Regions from separate parts of the Homo sapiens genome. Here regions 2 and 3 are each linked to region 1. The links come from fine-mapping of genetic effects on gene expression. A gene starts in region 1. Each other region holds a variant in brackets. All regions are shown on one strand. Distances are between the middles of the regions. Region 1 holds the start of DENND2B (DENN domain containing 2B). Region 2 has its middle 36 kb from the start of DENND2B. Region 3 has its middle 22 kb from the start of DENND2B.

The links. PIP is the estimated chance that this variant, and not a neighbour inherited with it, causes the effect. A credible set is the group of variants that fine-mapping cannot tell apart.
Region 2: its variant is the best candidate, but not a certain one, in a credible set for the expression of DENND2B in whole blood (TOPMed, PIP 0.54).
Region 3: its variant is the best candidate, but not a certain one, in a credible set for the expression of DENND2B in lymphoblastoid cells (GEUVADIS, PIP 0.76).

Annotation. Positions count from the first base shown.
Region 1 is chr11:8,807,301-8,815,484 of GRCh38, forward strand. It overlaps DENND2B (DENN domain containing 2B), which reads right to left and starts at 3,374. Exons shown (of 20, transcript NM_213618.2): 1 at 3,217-3,374. DENND2B-AS1 (DENND2B antisense RNA 1) reads left to right here. Exons shown (of 5, transcript NR_120590.1): 5 at 2,777-2,976.
Region 2 is chr11:8,842,820-8,851,003 of GRCh38, forward strand. It overlaps a transcript of DENND2B not described here and the pseudogene RNA5SP330. Among named protein-coding and RNA genes, the nearest start is that of DENND2B, 36 kb to the left of the region's middle. The variant GAC/G (reference allele first, on the strand shown) is at 4,153.
Region 3 is chr11:8,828,160-8,836,343 of GRCh38, forward strand. It overlaps a transcript of DENND2B not described here. Among named protein-coding and RNA genes, the nearest start is that of DENND2B, 22 kb to the left of the region's middle. RefSeq lists enhancers at 401-900, 3,681-4,482, 4,432-4,751, 4,483-5,283. The variant C/A (reference allele first, on the strand shown) is at 4,967.

The sequences.
Region 1 (8,184 bases):
AGGCCCAGGCCTCAGAGCCTCCCATCTCCCTGAGGTGCCAGGTGGACCTCCCGTAATGCAGTTCTTAGAATCAGATGCGGTGGGGAGTGGGGCACAGCCTCTCTTAGGTCTAGGCTACCAGTGGGGCCATGATACTTGGATTGCCCTCCTGAATCTGTACACCCCGCCCTTCATTCCAGGGAAAGAGGCTGAACCAGCAGAACCAAGGGTGTCCTTGGCCTGTTCTCCAGTGTATTTCAAAGTTTCATCTTCCCGGGGTGACTGATATCTAATTTGAGAGAGAGAGAGCCCAAGGGGAGAAGGTACAGGAAGCGGAGTAGAAGGAGGAAAGAGGGAGTGAGAACAGGAATGTTACTTTTTAATCCTTAAGGAACATAGACAGATCCAATTTGTGACTCAGCTCTGGGAAGCCGGACTGATGGGAGTCGGGGAACAGCTGCAGCCCCAATCTAAGCTGTGGGCAGCTTCTCCTTCAGGCCTTAGAGGCTGTTGTGACATGACTCAACTAGAAGGGGAGCTGCTTGTTTTGTTTCATTTTTTTAATCTGCCTACTATGGGTCTGCTCAAGGGCTTCTTCCCAGACACCACTCCGGGATATGGCTGGCAGGTCTTCCCCATCCTACAGTAAAGCTGGGGCTGTGGGTGACGCGCTCTAGTATGCCATACGCCCTTTCGACTCAATGAGGACAGACCTGGGACTCTCCTTGCCTGGAGTCTCCCTTCCCCTGCTCTTCCATTCCTTGGCACAGTCCCATGGCATATCAAGAATCTCTGCCCTTGGAATTCCCACTTCCTTGTTTCTTTTTCTTTCCCCATAAGCTGTGGCCTTATGAGTTCCTGAAAGACCTGCCCAGCCCCCAAGAAGCCTTTCGGAGCAATAACACTTTCTCCCAGTTAGAACCCTGCCTTCTAAACCCAGAATGAAGGAGAAAGACCCCTTTGCCCACTGCAGAGTGTGCCCAGCAGGACCCAGCAGGATGAGGGAACCAGGCCTGGCCTCTTTTCCAGCTGCTAAAGTTTATGGTGCCACAACTCTACAGGCAGCTGTGGGACACAGGAAAAGCGACGGGTCTTTTGGAATACCTCTCCTCTATACTATATATAAACACATGAGTCAGGTGACCAAGGAAAGCTTCCTCCCTGCAGGATCGTCTATGAGGCTCCAGTTTTATGGCAAACATCACTCTTATGAAACGACCCAACCCAAGGAAAGCAACATTTGTTTCCTTAAACATCCTGAAGAAGTCTTTTCAGATTTTTCTCATGTTTACTTATAAATGCAGAAAGGAAGAAGGCACTTTATAAAATGAGAGAACCAGAACAGAGAGGCAAAGTGACTTTCCAGAGAGAGTTGGGTCATTCCTCAAGCTTCAATTCACAACACGGTTCGTTAGATAGGACGTGACTTGTTTCAAACTACTTTCATGGAAGTTATCCCACTGGCTCCTCCCAACAGTCCTGTGAAGTTGTTCTTATTACCTCCATCTCACAGGTAAGAATCTGAAGCTCCTATTAGTTAAGATACTTGCCCGTGGCCGCCCTATGGGAACAGAATCTAGCCGTCGACTCAAGTCTAGCAACCCAAATCCATTATTCTTTCTGCTATACCAACAGAAGGAGCAGCAGCTCCTGAAACTGGGTCTCTGCTAGCCCTCTTCACAGATGTGGGGATGGTAAAATTGAAGAGCTCCAACTACACACACAAGTAGAAAAGAAGGCTGAGGTTCTGGATTTACACTGCCAACTGAAGGGGCCACTGGCTCAGTGTTATGCCACATCCCTCCAGCAAAATGTAGGTTTCAACTAAGCAAAGGATCCCTGGAGTGTATGTAGCAAGAGGAATAACTTCAGAAGTGGACCGTCTGAGGTCCAGGGCCATGGAGTTCACCCTTGTGGACCCTCAGGCCACAACCACGATGTATACATGTACTCATTTTAGGGAGCCGGAACTGGGGACATGGCCAGTGCTTGCATTGGCAAGCTGATCCGAAGTTAATCAGAATGCCCCCTCATTGTTTGCCAGAATACAAAAGACATTCTGTTCAGAAAGTTCAAGAAGAAAAACTGAAGAACCAGGACAGCAGCTGTTCCCTCATCCCACAGAGAAACCAAAGGCATTTGCAAAGTTCCCTGAGGCCAAGAAGTGAATTTAAGACATAACATGGCTCAAGTGGAAGCACAACCCCTGATGGGTCTCCGTTGCAGGAAGTGTTTGCTGCATTCATCCTCCTCATAATATTACTGACAACCCCACTACCCTATCACCTATAAAACTGCCTTTCTGGGAGGGTCTCCTTTCCAAGGCCACACAGCTCACCATGTACCACTCCTCTAGGTCAGAACAAGTTTTACCAAAACTTAGGACAATCAGTGTAGGAGTGCACAGCGTGGACACTGCGTGCCCTGAGATTTGGTCAAAATGTAACCAAAGGAATCCACCCGGCACAACTACAGTGCCTCATGTTCCCCAGCTCTTAGCAGCTGCTGCTGAGAGCTCACTCTGGGACATCTGGATGAGAAACCTGTTTGCAGGCCCCCCAACCCCAAGCCAGCCCCCTCCTCCACCTCTTAGGAAAGTCTGTGATCGACCTTTTGATGTGGGAGGACAGCTTGATTCTTACCAAGCTGCCTGGAAGAGAGAGAGTGCAAAACCCCAGCTCAGGCATCCCTGTGACAGTCCCTCTGTCCTAATAAATGCTCTAGAGGGACTTGGAACTCACCACAGGCTCCTGGCTGAGCTTAATTAGCCTTTTTTTTTTTTTTTTTTCCATTACAGGTCAGACATAGCAGCACCAAGAGACAAAACAGACAGTGTTCACTAGGACGAACAAGCGGCTCAAAAGGCACTGGAGTTTCCCTGTAAGAACTACAAACACCACGGGAGTGATGTTAACTCAGATTTTTCCATATAAAAGATTCTTCCTGTAAAAATATCCTGTGCCTTTGTGCTAAATAAAAGTAAAATGATGCTTTTTAGAGTGAAGTCTAAACACCTCAGATTCAGCAAGAGTGAGATCAGCTAGATTTGCAAAGTCAAGAAAATTGGCTGTTTCCCTCCTCCTTAAGCTAATAGAATCCAACTGTTGGAGCATGACATCATTCCTGAGCCCCAAACCCCGAGCAGAGACTACAGACACTCGCCTGACTCCCAGAAAACAGCCGGAGAGAAGGGCCAGGAAAGGAGGCCAAATGATCCCAGCCCGGAGCTGCCCTTACCTGAAAGTCCCGCTGCTTTCCTGCCCACTCCATTCTCACACCGCAGCCGGCTAGGGAGCCCAGGGCCCCCAAATCCACTGGCTTAAGCTCCGATACCTGCTGCGAGCTTCCCACAGCTCCTTCCTCTGACCTTTCGTGGCGCTCCTCGCAGCCAAGTGAGCAGAGCACTGCTAGCCGGCCAGGCCGGTTGTCATGGAGACCCTGTCCTCGCTAGGCGGGCGCGCGCACAGCGGCGCGCTCTTGGCCTAGCGCGTGCACAAGGGCGCTCTCTTTTTCTTTCTTTCTCACTGTCTCTCTCTCTCTCTCTCTCTCTCTCTCTCTCTCAGTTCTGGGAGGCTTCCATGAAACAGCACTGTCTTTTGATCAGCTCGGTTTTTGCATGCATTCCACTCCTCCTACCTCCCTTCCAGTCCAACAGGGGCTCTGAACTGCTCCTGGGAACTTGCTTGAACAGCTCAGAGGGGAGAAGGGAGAAGACAGTGAGTGGACTTGTTTTCTTCCCCTCCAGTGTCTCATTTTTTATAACTTGGAAGAATCCCTGCCAGGGGGGAGGGAGCTAGCTGAAGCGCTTGAAGGGGACCCAGCTTCCTCTGGGTCCTGGAGCTCGGGTAGGAGGGACCCTGATGCGCTGCCTTGACTTGTTTGTGCACTTGGGATTTTTCCGGGCAGCAGTTGGGGCGGAAATGCACTCACATCCCAGGAGCTCGCCTGGACTGGCCTCTCTGCTTACCTTGCTGCCTGTCCAGGTTGTGGCGATGGCTTTAACCAGTGCAGGGACTCATGGTACTAGTGGTGGCGCCTAAGCAGTCTCTCATCTTCCTGAAATGGAGAGCAAAGACAACTCGGTCAGGACCAGGAAGAATCCTGGGCAAGTCGAGAGTCACAACCCAGACGACAAACCTGATACAAATACAGCCTTGTCTCTCTGCCCTGCTAAGGATCTGCAGCTAAGGTGCAGGCTTAGTGGGAGCTGCTGTCACAGTCGGTAATAATATTGCTCCTGTCAGAAAATGAGCACAGTCCCTGGGACACGGCAGACCCCCTAAGTTTAGTCCCATCCCCATCCCCATCCTGTCCCTTCCTCTCCCCCCTACCCAGCATACATTTCTGCTTTGTAACATTCTTTTTACATGTATCATTTTGTTTGATCCTCATAACCTTTTGAAATACACTGCACAGATATTTTTATGACCATTTTTTCAAGTTTATTTATTATTCTTCTTAAATTTCTTTTAGAGACAGGATCTTGCTCCATTGCCCAAGCTGGAATGCATTGGTGCAATCATAGCTCACTACATCATCAAACTCCTGGGCTCAAACAACCCTCCTGCCTCAGCCTCTGAAGTAGCTGGGACTACAGGCATGCACCACCACGCCTGGCTACTTTTTTAATTTTTATTTTTATAGAGACAGGGTCTCACTATGTTGCCCAGGCTGGTTTTGAACTCCTGGCTTCACGCAATCCTCCTGCCTCAGCCTCTCAAAGTGCTGGGATTACAGGCGTGAGCCAGCATACTGGCCTTATGACCATTTTATAGATGGAAAAACTGAGACTCAGAGAGATTAAACATTTGATCTGCACTTATACAGTTAGGCAGTCAAAGAACTAAGAGATCAGCCAAGTTCGCCCTAGTCCAGCACACTTTCAACTAAAGTATATTGCCACCTGATTTCAAAAACTGTCAACTTTTTGATAACTGGTTATGAGATAACGCTGGGCTCCCAAGGGAAGGTGGAGAATCCTTGTAAGTTGTGGCGAGATAGGCTGACTACCATCCTTTCAGCCTAAAGACCTTAAGACAGCATCTCTAAGATGTAAAACGTCCTGATGCACAGCTCGGAGAAAAAGCCCTACCCTACAGCTATATGTGACCTTGCACTTTTCTAAACGACTCTCAAAATCTTGGCTCGTCTGTTCAACATGACAGGTCTGAAAGTTAGGATTGGCATTATTATACTAATTTAACAGATTTTTTTTTTTTAATTCTACAACAGAAGTAAAATTACTTGCCCCAGGTCATGGAACCAGGAAATAAAATCTAGAAACAATCCCCAAGCCTTTCAAGTCTCTTGAGTACATTAAGCACAGTGGTTGCAACAGCACCAGGGGTCAGAAGACCTTGGCAGTGCCTGACTCCACCACTAACGGGCCATGTGCCATTGGGCAAGTCCCATGACTTCCCCCTTTCCACCTACAGAGCCTACTGACAGGGCTGGGACTGAGCATCGGAAGAGATGCTGTCCGTGAAAGCACTCTCAAGTCAGGAACTGAACTAAGAACTTTACTCCTCTTGACAACTCCTCACCAAAAACAAACAAAAAACACTGGGACAGTTAATACCCTCCCCAGGATGAGGACACTGAGGCTTAAGGAGGATATTTTCCAATGCTGCTCCCAAAAACAGTGCTCCCAAAAAAAAGGTCCTGATGTTATTTATTTATTTATTTATTGACACGAGGTCTTATTATGTTGCCCAGGCTGGTCTTGAACTCCTGAGCTCAAGCAATCCTCCCACCTCAGACTCCTGAGTAGCTGGGATTATAGGTGTGTACTACCACACCCAGCCTGATAGAATCTTTAATGCAACATCCTATGCAGAATCTAGTGGGTTTTTTTCATTAATTTCCAGCATATCACAACATTCTCAAAACAAGATTCTGATTGACTTGAGTTTAAAAGGTAAATATATACCAGAAGTTAAGGTAGGAAAGTGTTATAAAATCCAACAGGAAATGACAGAATGGCACAAATCCTAAATGGGGGGCACTACTGCTTTAGTGAAGCAATCAGAGCTTGAAAGGGAGTGAACCTAATCACCCACTATAAATCCCCAACCCCACCCAAGCCCCAGCTGAAGAATCCCAAGTCTACAAAGAAAGACAAAGAAAGACAAGACAGAAGGGCAAATGCAGTATCATCAAATCACTAAATTTCCGCCTCTTCCTTGTCCAAAAGGCATCCCTCTGCTCTCCTCCTGATCCTCAAAATGCACATTCCACTTGCCCAGTCTCCATCCTGAGAAAGAAGGGGTGATCCCACCCCTTTCTATAATAAGATAATATTAATAATACAGTAGTAACATCAGTTAACACTTGTTGAGCACCTACCATATGCCAGGCATTCTTTTAAGCAGTATGAGGGGCCAGGGGTCAGGACTGAGTACTAGAACTGATACAAGTCAGTTCCTGAAGTAATCCAAACTTAAGAAGCCCTCCAAACCAGACCCAGAATGCGGGCCATGCTCCCCCTAGTGGCATGCTGGAGTTATGGAGGTTCCTTAGGGCCTTGTCCTGGGGGAAGGGACAAAGGAAGGGCCCCATTACTGAGAGAACTGGAATCCCTGCTTGGGTAATGCTACTGTGTACACACTCCTTGAACTGGGCAGAGTCAGGGACAGCTGAATCCCACCACTGCCTCTGCAAGGCTGGATTTAGACCAATCCTACCTGACCCTTCTGAAGGATAAGGATTTGACAACCTTATATAAGCTCTCTGCTGTCTACTGAGAGGCCTGCAAGCATACATGTGCCAGAAACCTGGGAGACATCCTCAACTCTCCCTTCTTATTTCTGCCCACATCCAACCCATTTCCCAACTGCAAACAATTCTACTTCCAAAATATATCTTTTATCTGTCCACTTTTCTCCACCTCTGATGCTACCCATCTCTCACCTTAATTATTGCAAAAACCTCCTAATTGCCCCAGCTTCCACTCTCCCCTCACAAAGTCATTAGAGCTGTCTGAATCACCTTTTTTTTTTTTTTTTTTAACACCAGATCAGGTCATTTCCTGCTTAACACACTTCATTGACTTCCCACTACACTTAAGATAAAATCTAACTTCTTACCAGGACCTACAAGGCCCAGCATGATTCTCCTCCTGCCTTCTTTCAGCACACTTCCTGCCCTTCCCTGTCTGTGCATCAGCCACATACAACTGCTTTTAGTTCCCCTGAGGTGTCATATTTTTTCCAGGTTGTTTCCCGTTGCTGGGACACTCCCCTACCAAGCAGTCTTTGCCTGGATAGCTCTTACTCACCTTGCCTCACCTTGACTCTCCTGTCTCTTGACTTTCACAATCCTCCAATCTAAATGAGGCTCCCCACACTTATCCTTCAGAGCACTCACCATGCTGTGTAATTATGCATTTATACAGTTATCTGCTTAATCTCAGTCTTCCCTCAGAAGAGTTCCTTAGGATACGAACCTTGACTATTTTGCTAACCACCAATATTCCCTGCACTTTGTGCAGGGCCCAGCTCACAGCTGGCACTCAATAAATATCTGCTGAATGAAATGCATAAAACCCCATTTCTTCCTGTCCGACAGGAAGAAGAAACTTAGAGCAGCTATTTCATGTCACTCATTGCCTCTTTTCATCGACTTACAAACTATAATTACATTTCTTTTCCTCATGTGCCTTGCCTGTGGGCACAACCAAAAATTCCTGTAAAGCCTCCCTGTGGTTTGTTTCCCAGAACTTTCCTGGTAAGGTCACTCTCCTGGGGCTGCCCTCCAGGGTTTTACAGCTGCTCCCATTACCAGTGCCCACTCACAGGCCTCCACCACCACCGGGTCATTGCCAGACCACTGTGTAGGAATGGCCCAGCTCCCACGATGACAAGGTTCTCTCAGGCCAGCAGCTCCAAGGACAAAACACCTCCTCTCCCCTCCATGGTGCAAGACACTGTGCTTGTAAAAAAATACATTTTTACTAAAAAAAAAAGTCTTATGTTTCATAATTTGGAGATGGTTGTAAAAAGTTCAGAAAAAAAGGGTTCTCTTACTAAAAAGAATTTTGAACACTACAGTCTGGTGGAAAAATGAAGGTCTAAGTAACACCAACAGCAGTGTGACTACATCCAACGTTCCCTCTTCTGGCCTACGCTCCCACCCAAATCTGAAATCCTCTGGCTTCATCTCTTGCCCACACCTCCCCTGCTACCAACCACCCGATTACAGGCACAA
Region 2 (8,184 bases), 36 kb after region 1:
CTTTCCTGAGACCAAAGAGTTTATACAGTTAAATTCTTTACAGTAAGGGTGATTTCGTAAATGCATACATTCAGTTTGATTTAATGTTTAGGACTCTGTAAAGGCTTCTCATGTAAGCAAATTCAAAAATCAGGACAAAAATCCTGTACTGGCCTAAGGATCTCAAATTTTGGCTCCAAAATTAGAGTTGCTCTTCTTTTCTCTCTTTTTTTTTTGAAATGCAGTCTCACTCTGTCACCCAGGCTGGAGTGCAGTGGCGCGATCTCGGCTCACTGCAACATCCGCCTCCCGGGTTCAAGCAATTCTCCTGCCTCAGCCTCCTGAGGGGCTGGGATTACAGGCAAGTGCCACCACGCCTGGCTAATTTTTGTATTTTTTGTAGAGACGGGGTTTCACCATGTTGGTCTCGAACTCCTGACCTCAGGTGATTCGCCCACCTCGGCCTCCCAAAGTGCAGGGATTACAGGCGCGAGCCACCGTGCCCGGCCGGAGTCACTCGTCTTAATAACAAGCTAAAGGCCCTAATTGAGCATGTGGCCAATGTGGAACCTTAGGCTGCAGCACTAAGCCCAATCAGCCCATTGCTACTAAGTACAAAACCTGCAAGAGGAACAGACTCTCAGTGGGCCTCAATTTCTTCCTCTAGCAGAATGTAAATAAGAATCTCTGCATTTGTAAAAATGTCCAGAAGATTACTAAGATGGAAAACAGTCACTGGGAAGGAAGCACCCCTTCAGGGGTCATTCTTGGCCTCACTTGCTCATGCCTGGCCCTTGGCAACAGCTACCTCCACAGATCTCCAGCCCCACCACCGCCTCTCCTTTCCAAGCCCTCCTCTCATACGGAATACACAAATCCTGTCACAAATAATACGCTGTCTGGCTGCCGTAAATCACCATCCTGCTCATGCCACCCCTGTGCTTTCCCCCAAGGTTGATCCTGATATTCTCTACCTCCAGACCCTTTGCACACACCACTCCCTCTTCCCAGAATGGCTTCCCTCCTCTGTTTGCTAAGCCAACTCCAACAGTCCCTCAAGATGCCGCTCCCACGGCACCTCCTTTGGTTGCTTTCTCTGGCCATGGGCTTCCCTTGCATCTTCTCCTCAACATTCTTTGCTTTCCTCTGGTCAAACATCTGTATCATACTCCATTGTAAATGTCTGTTTATCTTATGTGCCCTAAAAGAATGTTATATTACCCTCCTTACATTTAATATTTAAATTTTTGCATCACAACCAGTAGTAAAGACGTACTTTCTGCCATATTCTAAATATTGGCATTTTATAAATATTTACAGGCCTGGCACAGTGGTGCATGCCTGTAATCCCAGCACTTGAGGAGGCTGAGGTGGGAGAATGGCTTGAGCTCAGGAGTTCAAGACCAGCCTAGGCAACATAGTGAAACCTCAGCTCCACAAAAAAATCGAAAAGTTAGCCAAGTGTGGTGGTGCATGCCTACAGTCCCAGCTACTTGGGAGGCTAGGTGGGAGGATGGCTTGAGCCCGGGAGATCGAGGCTGCAGTGAGCCATGATTGCACCACTGTATTCCAGCCTGGGTGACAGAGCAGAACTCTGTCTCGACAAAAATGTTTTATTAAAAATAAATAAATATTTACATTTTTAAATTAAATACAACATTACTCTCTTAAATGAATCTAAATGATCCAATGGACTCTAAATGCCATAGTGGATCATCTATTTAAAAGAACATACATTTTATACTATGCCTTTTTGTTAACTCTTACTTCCTTTTATTTCGTTTTCAGAATTTTATCCTAATATTTATGCTTCAAAATCTTTTACTGATCAACCTATACTTCTCTGCAATATATATATTAGTATTATACATATATACATATAAATGCATAAATTTTTAAATTCTGCTATGATTATAACCTCAATTTTTTATTCTATTTATTTTATTTTTTTTTAGAGACAGGGTCTTGCTGTATCACCCAAGCTGGAGTGCAGTGGCATAATCATAGCTCACTGCAGCCTCAAACTCCTGAGCTCAAGCAATCCTCCTGCTTCAGCCTCCCAAGCAGCTAGAACTACAGATGCCCACCACATTGCTCAGCTAATTCTTTCTATTTTTTATTTTTGTAGGAACAGAGTCTTGCTTTGTTGCCCAGGCTGGTTTCGAATTACTGGCCTCAAGTGATCCTCCTGCCTCGGCTTTCCAAAGTGTTCAGATTACAGGTGTGAGCCACCACATCCAGGCTATAACTTGTAAATGTTAAAAAAAAAATTCTTCTTCTGGATTGGGTTTTCATTATCTTTATTGTTTGAATATGCAAATGATCAAAACATAATTGGTTTAGAAATTGGTACTATTATTAAACATAAAAAGTAAAATTTTATTCAAAATGCATTAATTTTTCATTTTTATAGTGGTAAGCACCAAGAAACCTTGTTCACATAAATAACTAAACAGAAGTGACAGTCTACAGCCATACTACCCTGAATGTGCCATCTCGTCTGATCTCAAAAGCTAAGCAGGGTCAGGCCCCGTTAGTACTTGAATGGGAGAAGTAAAATAAATTTTGCTATAGCAATATCAGTATCTTTAGAATCACAAGTCAAAATCATGTCATGACCTATAATCAAAAATTATTTTTAATTATCTACCAACTGACAATGCCTTCAATTTTGTTGAAAGCAAGAATTGGAAACCATCTGACTTAGAAAAGGATTTGCTACTCACAGTCATTCACTTTCCTAATAATAGTCCTAATTGTTCCTTTGCTTGTTAATCTGGAGGCTTTCACACATCAGGCACACAAACAGCAAGACTCCAGATTAATAATGACTATGTCTTCCTTTTGTAAAGTGGGAGAAGAGTGATTGAGAAAGGAAACACCTTGAGTGCAACTGAATTCTCAGACAGATCAGCCTTTGGAAAGGGGACATAGAAAGTCAAGGATCTAGAAAATATACCCTGTCTGAAGACTACTAGCTTATCTGCCTCTCCCACCAAAACAGTGGCATTATCAAAATTAACATTAAATTATGTTTATTCGTGGATAATTACTGTTATATTTTAACAGAAAGAGACTGAAGACAGCCTAAATGTGCTCAATAAAGGTCTGATTAAATAAATTACAGAGTGTCTAGAAACCAAAAATACACGGTTTCTCTTCAGGACTGAATCAAGTCCCTTCAGAATCAGGGCCCACACTTTATTCCCACAGCCTCAGCTCCTACAAGCCCTTCGAAGGTCCTCATGTGCATCATTCCCCACTGCAAGTAATGGTTTCTAGATGGGAAACCATGGTCCACAGAGCAACACAGACAGGGACGTGCCAGAGGACATAAGGACAGTAAGACCTAAAGTGTACTGCTGAGGCTTGTTATGAACACTCATGGAATTGCAACCTGGAAGCCTATGTCTGGGGAAAGGGAGAGGGGACAGTGTCTATGCTAAGAGAACAAGTAGCAAGGAGCCAGAAGAAGGCTGAGTGTGGTATGAAGGAATAAATACTCAAGAAGCTGGTAAGGCTGGTGACATTGGAAGGAAGATCCCCCAACAGGCTGCTGGCCCTAGAGGTCAGGGCGCTATCTATCCTTGGAAGAAGACAAGTGGAGGACAGTATCATCCGAACCAAAGCAGCGCCCAGGCTGAAGGGCCCACTGGGCAGACACTCCAAGAGAAGGCTCATGGTCATCACAATGGGGAGGAGGGGAGAAGAGGAGTGAGCCAAGACGCGGCTGCTTGCGGACAGGGCAGAACCTACAGATGGGAACAAATGAACCTGGTTTCATAAAACAGCTTCCCTCCTCTGTGCCCCAGAGTAGTCCTCCCAGTTAAAGTCCCCTTTCTCGTTCTCTTCACCAAGTCAAATCCTGCCAACCTGCCAAGGGCCAAGATGATGCCCCTTGTTCTCCATGCAGCCTCCTCAAACACTTCTGCTTATAGTCAGTTCTTCTACCTCTAAACCCTCATCATTCTCTGTTTATACCAGAGGCGGCCTGCAATATTTCTAAACCGCTCCATGATCCATTTGTATTTTGATATTAATCCTTAGCTCTTTGCTGTAGGTGTTTGATGCCTCTCTGAAGATAAGGCTTGTGACTTAGACATGTTCCTGTCCCACAGGGTGACCCCTCAATGCTTTACTGTGCGGGACACCTACTTGCTTACAGTTCCAATG[GAC/G]ACACACTGTCTCCTGCCACTCATCCAAATGTCTATCTCTTTCACAAAATTAAAGGTTCATTATATACATGTGGATTCTGAATTCTTGGGTCTTTCATAGTCTTTGGCTTAGGGCTTCACACTTGCTAACCACTCAGTGAAACTTCTCCAGAGTCAGTCATTCAGCTGCTGCTCTACCTGAGGCTGTAGCACCAATGAGCCAGCTCTCCAGAGACACGCCCACATGGTACAAACCACGTTCTAGTGGAGAGCATTCTCCCATCATGGGAGGCTCTCCCTTCAAGCTAATCTTAACAAGAATGAAATGGGAATTTGGAATTTCGTTTCCCTTATACAAAGTCACTTCCTAAAATGGGGGGATTATAATTAGGTGATCATTAATTACACTCGCCATTACAAAATTCAAAATACCTCAATTCCTTTACCTTTTATAACGAACATAAAGTGGGATCTCAATAGTATATTTAAAAGAATTTCTCACAAATCTCAGTAAATACAATACAAATAAAATAGTTTGAAACTATGAAAGAAAGATCAGTAAACAGAGAAGAATGAATATATAGGAAAAGGGTATAAGCAGTCAAAGAAAACAAAGCTTAACGATAGAAAAGAAAAGAAAAGCTAATCCCTGTAATGGAATGCCTTCCTCACAGCAAGCTCTCAATATTTGTCATCAAATTTACAGAATGGCTGATATTGATTCTCAAGGCAATGAAACAGACTACGCAAGTGCTGGCTGCAAAAGAAACAGAAACGTAAGGTCCATACTAAATGAACTGATGAATGCAATAAAAACAGAAGTGATGCTACAGAAAAAACTAATCAGAAAAAGATATAAAATACAAAAATATATTTTTCAATAAAAGATTCAAAGCATGCACAAGATGACAAGCACAAGAAGGAATGCAGCTCAGAGAACTATCCCGCAAATGATCAAAGTCTTTGAACAAATGGCCTCAAATCTATAAAGTTTAATAGAAAAAAATGCTATCTAAAAACAACAGAAGGATTTGCTCTGAGTACAAAAGATGTACAAAATCATCAACCAGAGACTACCACTATGACATTCTCATATTTTTAAGCATAAGAAAAAGAAAAAACTCAGCAGGCTGAGAAGACCCAAATCCAAATTTCTTCCAATTTTGCAAAGGATACAATTAAAGTCCAGAGATGCATATAAAACTCTCAGAGAAAGTATTTTTACCTCCAGTGTAACAAGGTGAGTAGACTCTTTGAGCAAGTGAAAAAGAAATATCTCTTAGAGCTTTGATCATACCTGAAGAAATTTACCCATCACACACTTCACTTTAAATTATGTCCAAGAACAACTGTAAATGAGACTTAAATGTTTTAAGTTTTACAAATAAGACCAAAGAACCCAAATCAATAATTTCCCATTAAAAATAATAATAAAATGTTAAATAGGGAAAGAGCAATTGTCAAAAACACATTATTAATAAAATAGGACTGCAGGCACGTGCCACCATGCCCAGCATTTAAATACCAGACAACATTGAGACAACTGAGGACATTTAAATATGACCTGAATAACAGATGATATTAAGGAATTATTGTTAGTTTGGTTAAATGTGAGAGAGTGGTTATAGATTTTTAAAGTTCTTATCAAATATGCTTCCCGAAATATTATTGGGTAAATAACATAATGTCCAGGAATGGAGGAGAAAGATAAAATTGGCAAAATGTTAATAATATTTGAAGCAGATTAAGAATATATGGAGTTCATTATACAGATGGGAACAATGGCTATCATTATTCATAATAGCCAAGATACTGAATCAGTTCTCCTGACTTTTGTGCATATTTTGAAATAAGAAGTTTTTTAAATTAATATTTATTGGGTATCTACTGAGTACCAGGTATTGCTTAGGTATTTGACACAAAAATAAAATGGCCTCAAGAAAAAAAAAACAGTAAAGCAGATTCTTAACCCAGGGTTTATCCAGGGAAATATCCATGATTTCTATGGGTGGCTAAATCACAGGTACTGCCATTACTGCTGTTTTATTGCCTATATTCATAATAAAAAAGAAATACTAAATTTCAATCGGGGTGGATGAAAATGATGTAATTTTTTTTTTCCTATCCAAGTTGCAGACCCTTCAAATTCTACCCATGGACCCCCAAGGGTTGCACCATTCTGCAAATATTCACTGAACACTTAAAATAAGACAGTCACTGCTAAGCACTAGGGATACAAAGGTGAAGAGAATACTACAGGCCGGGCGCGGTGGCTCACACCTGTAATCCCAGCACTTTGGGAGGCCAAGGTGGGTGGATAGCCTGAGGTAAGGAGTTCAACACCAGCCTGACCAACGTGGTGAAACCCCGTCTCTACTAAAAACACAAAAATTTGCCAGGTGTGGTGGCAGATGGCTGTAATCCCAGCTACTCAGGAGGCTGAGGCATGAGAATCACCTGAACCTGGGAGGTGGAGGTTGCCATGAGCCGAGATCACACCATTGCATTCCAGCCTGGGCGACAGAGCTAGACTGTCTCAAAAAAAAAAAAAAAAAAAAAAACAGACAGAAAGACTGAAGAGACTGATAAGGCCAGGCATGGTGGCTCATATCTGTAATCCCAGCACTTTGGGAGGCCAAGGTGGGCAGATCACTTGAGGTCAGGAGTTTGAAACCAGTCTGGCCACATGGTGAAACTCCATCACTACTAAAGATACAAAAATTAGCCAGGTGTGGTGGCAGGCACCTGTAATCCCAGCTACTCAGGCGGCTGAGGCAGGAGAATTGCTTGAATCCAAGAGGCAGAGGTTGCAGTGAGCTGAGATCGCCCCACTGTACTCCAGCCTGGGTGACAGAGGGAGTCTCCATCTCAAAAAAAAAAAGAAAAGAAAAGACCAATAAGGCTGGGTGCTGTGGTTCATGCCTGTAATTCCAACACTTTGGGAGGCCAAGGCAGGTGGATCACTTGAGCCCAGGAGTTCAAGACCAGCCTGGGCAACAAGGTGAAACCCCGTCTCTAGAAAAAATACAAAAATTAGCCAGGTGTGGTGGTACATGCCCATAATCCCAGCTACTCAGGAGGCTGAGGTGGGAGGATCACTTGAGCCAAGGAGGTCAAGGCTGCAGTGAGCTGTGATCGTGCCACCTCACTCTGGCTTGGAGGACAGAGGGATACCCAGTCACACACACACACACAAAAACTGATAAATTTCACATTAAATTACTAAAAATTTTTGTATGTGGAAAACAAAGTTAAAAGACAAACTGTGAAAAACATATGTAGTATATATGAGTTGTTCTTAATATTTTAAAAGTTGGTAAAATGCATTAAATAAAATATAAAACTGCTTGATCTGATAAGGGGTTAATACCCAAAATATATAAGGAATCAACACAATAGTAAGAAAACAACTTATTTAAAAATGGGCAAAGGACCTGAACAGACGTTTTTCAGAAGAAGATATACAAATGGCCAACAGGTATATGAAAAAATGTTCAACATCACTAATCATCAGGGAAATGCAAATTAAAACTACACCGAGATAACACCTCACACCTATTAGAATGGCTACCACCAAAACGACAAAAGATAATAAGTGTTGGAGAGGATGTGGAGGTTGACGGGAATATAAAGTGGTACAGCCATTCTGGAAAACAGCATGGAGATTTCTCAACAAATTAAAAATAGAACTATCATATGATCCAGCAATCTCACTACTGAGCATATATCCAAAGGATATGAAATCAGTATGTCAAAGAGCTATCTGCACTTCCATGTTCATTGCAGCATTATTCATAATAGCCAAGATATGGAGTCAACCTGAGTGTCTATCAACAGATAAATAAAAAAAGAAAATGTGGTTTATATACACACAATGGAATACTATTCAGCTATAAAAAAAGAAGGAAATCTTGTCACTTCCTACAACATGGATGAACCTGAGGACACTATGTTAAATGAAACAAGCCAGGCACAGAAAGAGAAACACCACATGATCTCACTTATATGCCGAATCTAGAAAAGTTGAACTCATAGAAACAGAGGGTAAAAT
Region 3 (8,184 bases), 21 kb after region 1:
CCTGCCTACAGTGGCTGGGGCAGAGATCTAAAGCAAGTAAAGGACCAGACAGACGCTGAGAACCTAGAAGGAGCACACAAAGCCTAATTCAGCCTCATGACCTTGACTTCCTCTTCCAGAAGTGCCTGGACACAGAGCAGTGCACCTTCAACAGCACAACTCGGCCGTTAAGGCTGCACCAAAATTCATTCAGGAGCCCAGCCCTGGGCAAAGCAAAGCCTCCTGCCCCCCAGGATGCAGCACTTCTCTGGTTTGTCTTCAGGGGCTCCAATGCAGCTGTATCTGCGGGGAAGCTGGGGGTCAGGACGCAGACCACAAGAACCCACTCTGTGAGGGGTCACTGCTTTCAAGGACACCAAAGGGGACCCTCATCTCTGCGTTCCTTTCTTCCACCATGATCCCTCTCTGCTTCCTCTCCTGCCATGTGGGGTGGTGAGAATGGGGACAAGCAGGGCGGACCGAGCACTCTTTTAATAGGAAACAAGGACTCGGAGGTGACCAGCTGCAGAGGTGAGCAAAGCTCCAGAAGGACTCCAGCTTCTGACCCGGATGGCTGAGTGCCACCACCATTTCAGGGAACACTGACCAAACAGAAGATTCCACGCTGCTTTGCTGCGGTCATGTCTGAGTTTACCCAAGAGGGGAAGCTGCTCCAACAGAGGAAGTTAATTAGACCAGACAAGAGCGGGGAGCAGAGGTGGAAGACAGGGATGAGACAAGAAACTGTGGAGGACAAAAAGTAAGATGAAAGGAAGGAGGGAGGCAGGGAAGGGAGGAGAAAGTGTGTGTGTGTGGGGTGTGTGTGTGGGTGTGTGTGTGGTGTGCATGTGTGTGGTGTGTGTGTAGTATGTGTGGAGTGTGTTGTGCGTGTGTGTGTATGGTGTGTTTGTGTGTGGTGTGTGTGGTGTGGTGTGTATGGTGTGTTTGTGTGTGTGGTGTGGGTATGTGGTGTGCTTTTGTGCATGTGGTGTGTGTGCATATGTGTGGTGTGTGTGTGGTGTGTAGTATGTGTGGTGTGTGTGGTGTTTGTGTGTGTGGTATGTGTGTGCATGTGCATGTGCAGCATATGTTGTAAGAGGAGGTGGGAGAGGAGTGGGTGACACATCAGAGCCGTCACTGCAATGCTGAGCCCCTGGCTGTGGTGATGACTGGCCACAGCGCAATTCAGCAGTGGTGTCTTTGCAGTCAGCTTCCGTGGTCAGCACAAGGCAAAAATCATGTGGAGTCAAGTTATCTTGAAAATTCCCTTAGAAAGGCACCACACTGGAGACCCGCCAGTCTCCGGGGAGCCCCATTCAGTACTATTCATATACATTATTTTTGTGCACTCCTATGAATCTGAGAACTAGAAGGACCCAAGGAGTCCATCTTCCTTCTCTGTGGTTCTCAAAAACAATTCTGAGGAGCTGAACCATTGATATGGTCTGAATGCTTCTGAGTAAGTTTCTCTCAGCTCTCAGAGATTGGTTTATCACCTAATGTTATCCAGCCAGACGGACTTCCTGCGAAGCCCACACTCTCTTCCATGCTGCTGTTGTCTTAAAATTGTCTTAGGAGGGAGAGGCCTATATCACGGGTCCCGCCCCACCACTAAATAGCTGTGTGTGCTGGGAACAGTCGCTTCCCCTTTCGTCCCCAATCTCCCCTTCTATAAAACAGAGCCAGACTAGATGAACTCTAAGAGCCCAGACAATGCTCTGCTGAATGAAAAAGTGCTTTGAAAAGTCCAAGTACTTCACAAACAGAACGTGTCAGTATTGGTTAGCTCTCACAGGTCAGAAACGTTGGTGTCTTCCGTCTTGCCCCTCAAGTTCATCCTTCATGTCAGTCCTGCCTCATCTACTCTGGAATATTCTCTAGGACTCGCCCCCTTCCTCTCTCCTGTTGCTGACCTGCCAGGTCCTTTAGCAGGCCTCCTCACTGCCTTTCTCTGGCCTCTCCAAAATTATCCTATTTTCATCGATCTACAGGAGAGATTTCCACAAAACTCCACCTTCACTGCATCACTTCACATCACCTATGTAATGGCAGGACTTCCAGAGCTCAGGTCCCTGGCTCTGCTCTGCCACACCTACCCCTCCAAGGTAGATCATCGCCGTGACACTGGAGTGAACATCTCTCCTTTCCTTATAAAGTTGACCCAACTTTAAAGACCAGAAAAATCCTGCCTCCTCCAAGGAAAGTTTTCTGTGGTTTTAAGATACAACTTTCTTGTTCTGAACTATAAATGTATCCATGGTTCGTAAACCAACACAGTTAAGATCTTGGATATTCTCTACTTGTTTAACAAACACTGTCTCTCCCAATAGCTTATAAATTCCCTCAGGTCAGAAAATAAGCTTTATTTAATATTTGCATCACAATGTCAGTGGAGCTGAAAATTCAGCGAGGGCTGCATTGCCTTACTGCCTGATGGTGGAAAGAAAGATCTTTGTTATCTCTCCAGCCCTTGACAACTCACAGGGAATGTTGGGGTACAGAGGAAGGAGAGAAGAGGTGGAATTAATACCCTCCCAACTCCTAAAGTATCTTCCCGCCTGTTCCTCCCTGCTTTCACCCACTCTGGTGGGGGAAAGAGCCCCCATCACAGGCTCCAATCCACCTATTCTCTGAGGCTGAGCCTGAGCCCATCAGAACAGCATGCAGACAGCTCTATTTAGCTCCATTCTTCATGTTCTGATCCGCCCGTGTGATAGCAACAGCTGCTCACAGTGCCTGACAGTAGTGGGAAGATAAAAGGAAGAAAGAGACACATAAGAAAGAAAAGCCAAGACCAGTAGTCATCTTCTAATATATATTTCATACCTGGGCCCTGGAGGGAAATCTGCTTCAAATTAAGCCCCATCTGTTCTCAAGCCCCCAAAGAGGCAGAGCACCCATGAGAAGGGCTCTATACCCTGCCAGGGCACAGACACCAGTGAAGATTGGCAGCTGCAAAGAAGGATGGCATCCTTGAGGAAGCCAACAAACTGGGAGGTGGAGCCCCTGGCTGACCAGCCCATTCTTAGACTCAGAGCCTCTGCCCCACAACACATGACCCCAAGACCTCCCTGATAGGTAAGAATCACATAAGTATGTAATGGGTGTAAAATGGGGAGGATTGTCAGGAGATCGGCCCAATTCCCAGAGGAAAGCATTCCTGGCCATCACACCCAAGGTACTCAGCAATGCAAGCATAACCTAGCATGCCTAAACCCACCTTCCCCACTACTCCTGGCTTCTGGCCACTCGGGAGCAAATACACCTCTGCAAAAGTCCCAGCTTTTGTGCTCCCCACAGCCAGCCCCCACCATCGTCTCTCCAGATCTTCTCCTGTTTATAAGATGCATTCACTCCTAATCTCCACTTCCAGACACACACACACACCCTTGGGTAGACACAGGGCAATAAGCCTACCTCTCAGGCTCAACTTCTGGGCTGCACACAGTGGGGTGGCTTGCTCCCGTAATCCCAGCACGTTGGGAGGCTGAGGCAAGAGGACTGTTTGAGCCCAGGAGTTCAAGAGCAGCCCGAGCAACACAGCAAGACCCTGTCTCCATAAAAAAAAGATGGAAAAATTAAATTCTGTAGGATTCACTCCCTAAATAATTAAAAATTTAAACTTAAATTTTAAAAAACCAGGCTTAACTTCTACCCAGTGTGTGTTCATGCTCCCTTGGGCCCTTTCTGCTTGCAGGAGCTGATGATGCTGGGTGCACTCTGAAAGATTTTAAACCTGGTAAGGATGGTAATGCCTTCAGGGGCCAGAGGATGCCTTCACAAACCATTCAGAGTGTCAACAGAGCCAGACTGGGGAGACGTCCAGTTATACCAAGACCAAGAGGCAGATTCTCTCATCTGCCTCTAAGCTCCTTCCTCACAAAAGGTATCTGCCACACCCATCTCCAGTGCCAAAGATGGATCACAGCCGACTGAGCCGACTGTCTCTCCTCCTACCCCTCACCCCCGCCTTCCAGAGTGACAGCGAGACAGGAAAGCAAGTTGGAAAATTTTTAAAAGAACCAACACCTCGGCCAGGCACAGTGGCTCACGCCTGTAATCCCAGCACTATTGGAAGCCGAGGTGGGCGGATCACAAGGTCAAGAGATCAAGACCATCCTGGCCAACACGGTGAAACCCCGTCTCTAGTACAAAATACAAAAATTAGCTGGGCATGGTGGTGCACACTTGTAGTCCCAGCTACTCGGGAGGTTGAGGCAGGAGAATTGCTTGGACCGGGGAGGCGGAGGTTGCTGTGGGCCGAGATTGTGCCATTGCACTCCAGCCTGGCAACAGAGCGAGACTCTGTCTCCAAAAAAAAAAAAAAAAAAAAGAACCAACACCTCATCACAATCCATGAAAAGCTAGCTCCTGGCTCTAGGACTGCAAGAAAAGGGAATTCCACCTTCAAACTCCTGGTTACCTTCCATGGCTGGTCTCAGTGGAACTAGCATTCCTCCTCACAGAGGCATGAGGCAGCCACACCCCACACAGCCCCAGAGCCCAGAGGCAGAGTTGGGCAGAAAGGAATGCAGATAGTTTCCCAGAAGTGTCTGGCCGAGAAGGAAACCAAGAGCTTACCCACAGCTTCCTGGGCCCTGACTGGGAGGCACTGGGTTCTCACAACAAGGATTCTGGCAATTCAGGGATGGTGAGGCCCTTGTATGTGAAAGCCCACAGGAGGCGAGGACACAGTGGTGGGAAGAGGCCCTGACAGAACAAGCCTGGGCTGGCCCCAGACGGCTTCCAGTAAGCAGCGGCTGCACTTGAATGTCAGCAAGGGTCTTAGGGAGACCCGAAGCAATCCAGTCACAGGGGAGCCCAAGGCAGGCACGCAGATGTGAGGTCGGATCCTCTTAGCATAGGCTTTGGCGTCACCTGCTTTCCAGGAAGCAGGCTTCATTTTCTAACACATCTTGAGGGAGGAGGGCAAACCGGAGGGGAAGCCCAACATCTGACAGGCCAGCAAAGCTGGTGAGCAGATGGG[C/A]TCTAATGCCTCCCAGCTTGATTCTCTCAGTCATGCTTCAGAGGTCATAAGGCTTTTTTTAGTCCTACTGTTAGTACCACAGCTCCCAGAAGCCTGTGCTTCCTCCAAATTATGACCCTGTAAGGCTCTGTTCTAGGATAAGCACAGGAGAAGGAGCAGAACACAGAAAGAGTTATTAAAGATGCCTTCCTGTTATATACTAAGTGTCCACGTGAAGGATATCAAAATAAAATAATAAAATAATTTTAATTTAAAAGTGGATTACATCATTAACTGTTTCCTTTGCAAGGAAAGGGCAATTCCTAATACAGATTCCATAAAATCCAGATGACACTTCCCCTTCTCATATACGACCTGGACTCTGAAAACCTTAATCAGTTGCTAGCATTAATACAAAATACACACAGAGACACATATAGACACACGTCTGTTCTTCAAAGCTTTGTTCGGGAAGCCAAAGATACAAGAACCCTTCCAACTTCATGTCCCTATGGGGATAACAGGAGGCACAGAGTTAAATATGGTTTTTCCCAAGCAAAGACCTTGGCTGCGAATAGGATTAAGGGTGGCTCTGGACACCCCCACATGCAGGAAGAAGGCTAAGCACCTGGAATCTCCCCTTCCTCCACAGCACCAGTAAATGAACTGATGTCATCTCTCTGGTAGCCAAACATGTCTGTCTCCCAGCCCCTAGGATTTCACCCATCCTTACCTCAAAATTGCATAATAAGGGTCTGCAGCTGGTTAGTTCAGTTACTCACAGCCTGGTGCCAGTGAAGCAAAGGTAAAAAGTTGGCTACTTAGAGCCATTAGTTTCACCTTACCCTGTGGCCACAGATTTTAACTGTTTAAACCTAGATCAAAATGCATGCTGCTTTTTTCAGAGAGACAAGACCAAAGATGAACTCAAAAAGAGCATCCCTGGGCACCACAGAAAGAAGGACAAAGATAAAATCAGCTGTGACTGTACTTCTTTGGAACGGGATGACACATGCTGATCCCCAAGCAAGAACATCTGGATAAGCTTTCCCACCCTCACAGGAAATTTTCAGTCACCTGGAACCTAGTACAGTTTGGAAAGTCATTCTATTTTCCTGAACTGTTCATTCCACAAGGAGATGCTGCAGTTTACACACAGTGCACTGGGACATCTTCAGTTTTCATAGATTAGCAGCATATGCGTCCTACAGGAAAGGTCTGTAGCTTTAAATTAGACGCTTTCCATCCTAAGACCTGATACAGCATTGCAACAAGAATGTATTATTTCCTTGTCAAAAATCAGAGGAGATAACTCCACTAACCCCACTAAACAGTAAGTTTAAAGAATGCGATCCTGTCATAATTACATCATGATTTTCAAAGTGGGAGAATTTCATTGGGTTTTAAGCTCAAGTTTTTCCCAGTGTGACACACAGTGCGAAAAAGAAAAGAGCTTAGGCAAAGTTAGGCATGGCACATTCCAGCTCCTCTAGCCGAGACTGAAGAAAACAGACCTAGCTTTCCTGACCTGCTCCCGGAAGCCCTTGGAAGCACTTTTCTTCCTCTTCATGCAATGGGAACAGAGTCAGTCTCTTCTAGAGCAACTTCACCAGCAGGGGCCAGAGGGTGAACAGACTGTGTTTTCACTAAAAGCTCCTTTTTCAGGCAGTCGCCCTTTATAGGTTGAAGACAGTTTTCCACAGAAACAACACCAGACATGGTAGCCAGATGCGCAGACAAGCTCATTAATGAACAACATGGCTGAAATACTGTTTATACATAATAAAGACACAAAACAATACCTCTGTAAATACTAGCAATAAAACAAAATGTAAGAGGAATAAAATTATATCATTTTTGGCCAGGCACGGTGGCTCACACCTGTAATCTCATCACTTTGGGAGGCCAAGGTGGGCGGATCAATTGAGCCCAGGAATTCAAGACCAGCCTGGGCAACATGGCAAAACCTATCTCTACAAAAATACAAAAATTAGCCGGGCATGGCGGTGTGTGCCTGTGGTCCCAGCTACTCGGGAGGCTGAAGTGGGAGAATTGCTTGAGCCCAGAGGGTGGAGGCTGCAGTGAGCTGAGATCGCGCCACCACACTCTAGCCTGGGCAACACAGCAAGACTCTGTCTCCAAACAAACAAATAAATAATAATTTTTACGTGTTTCAAATTGTGGTCCTGGAAGAAGGGCAGGTTAATTAAAAGATGGATATCTGGGGGGAATCTTTAAAAGCATTCTCAAGAACAATAGTGATGGCACTGATACTTCAAACCGTCTACTTTCATTCCCAAATGTCTGACTGTCCTTTCAGAAGTATTCTTGGTTTCACACTTTACCAGCTATGATCAAAGCTAGCTTTTATCCCACAGGCAAAAAGGAAAGGGGATAAGGAGGGTTTTTTGGGAGGCAATTAAGCAAAATCATAAGGACAGAAAGAGAAGGAAAGATGGGGATTAAAGAGGATGTGAGTAGGATCTGAAGAACACTTACCTGAGGGAGACCTAAATTACCTGTGATTGGTGAGAGATATAGAAGCCAGCTGGTTCATGACTACTGAGAATCGGAGTGCCAGGGAGGACGCACTGGATATTATGTGACAGATACCAGTTGGATCACCTGCCTAGGACAACTTAAGATCAAAGAATGGGGGAAAATACCAAATGCCAGACACAGGCTCACAACTCTTATCCAGCCCCAGATCAAACTATTACTTCAACCAGACATCGTTGGCATTCGCAAGGAACACGTCTACAGAGCCTACGGGGAATGCTCACTGCCTGTTCTCCTGAGCTGGCTGGCTGAGTACCGATCTATCTAAAGAAAATAAACTACCCCAGAGTTCTATGTCACCTAGCTCTAACAGTCTCAGGAAAGTAGGAGGCATCCTCATCGGGGATGTAGGTCACAGTGGAGTTAGGGCTTATGGAATACATAAAAACATGGTGAATATAGGGCCGGGGATGGTGACTCATGCCTGTAATCCCAGCACTTTGGGAGGCCGAGGTTGGTGGATCAGGAGGTCAGAATTTGGAGACCAGCCTGGCTAACACAGTGAAACCCCGTCTCTACTAAAAATACAAAAAAAAAAAAAAAATTGCAAAATAACAGAGAAGTCCTACTTGAAAGTATACAGAATCAATTATGGAGCTCTTCTGCCCAGAAATATTCTACTTAGCTCCACAACTTTCTCTAGCAAGTTTCAGCAGCCTGAGAGCCTCCCAGGGTTGGGC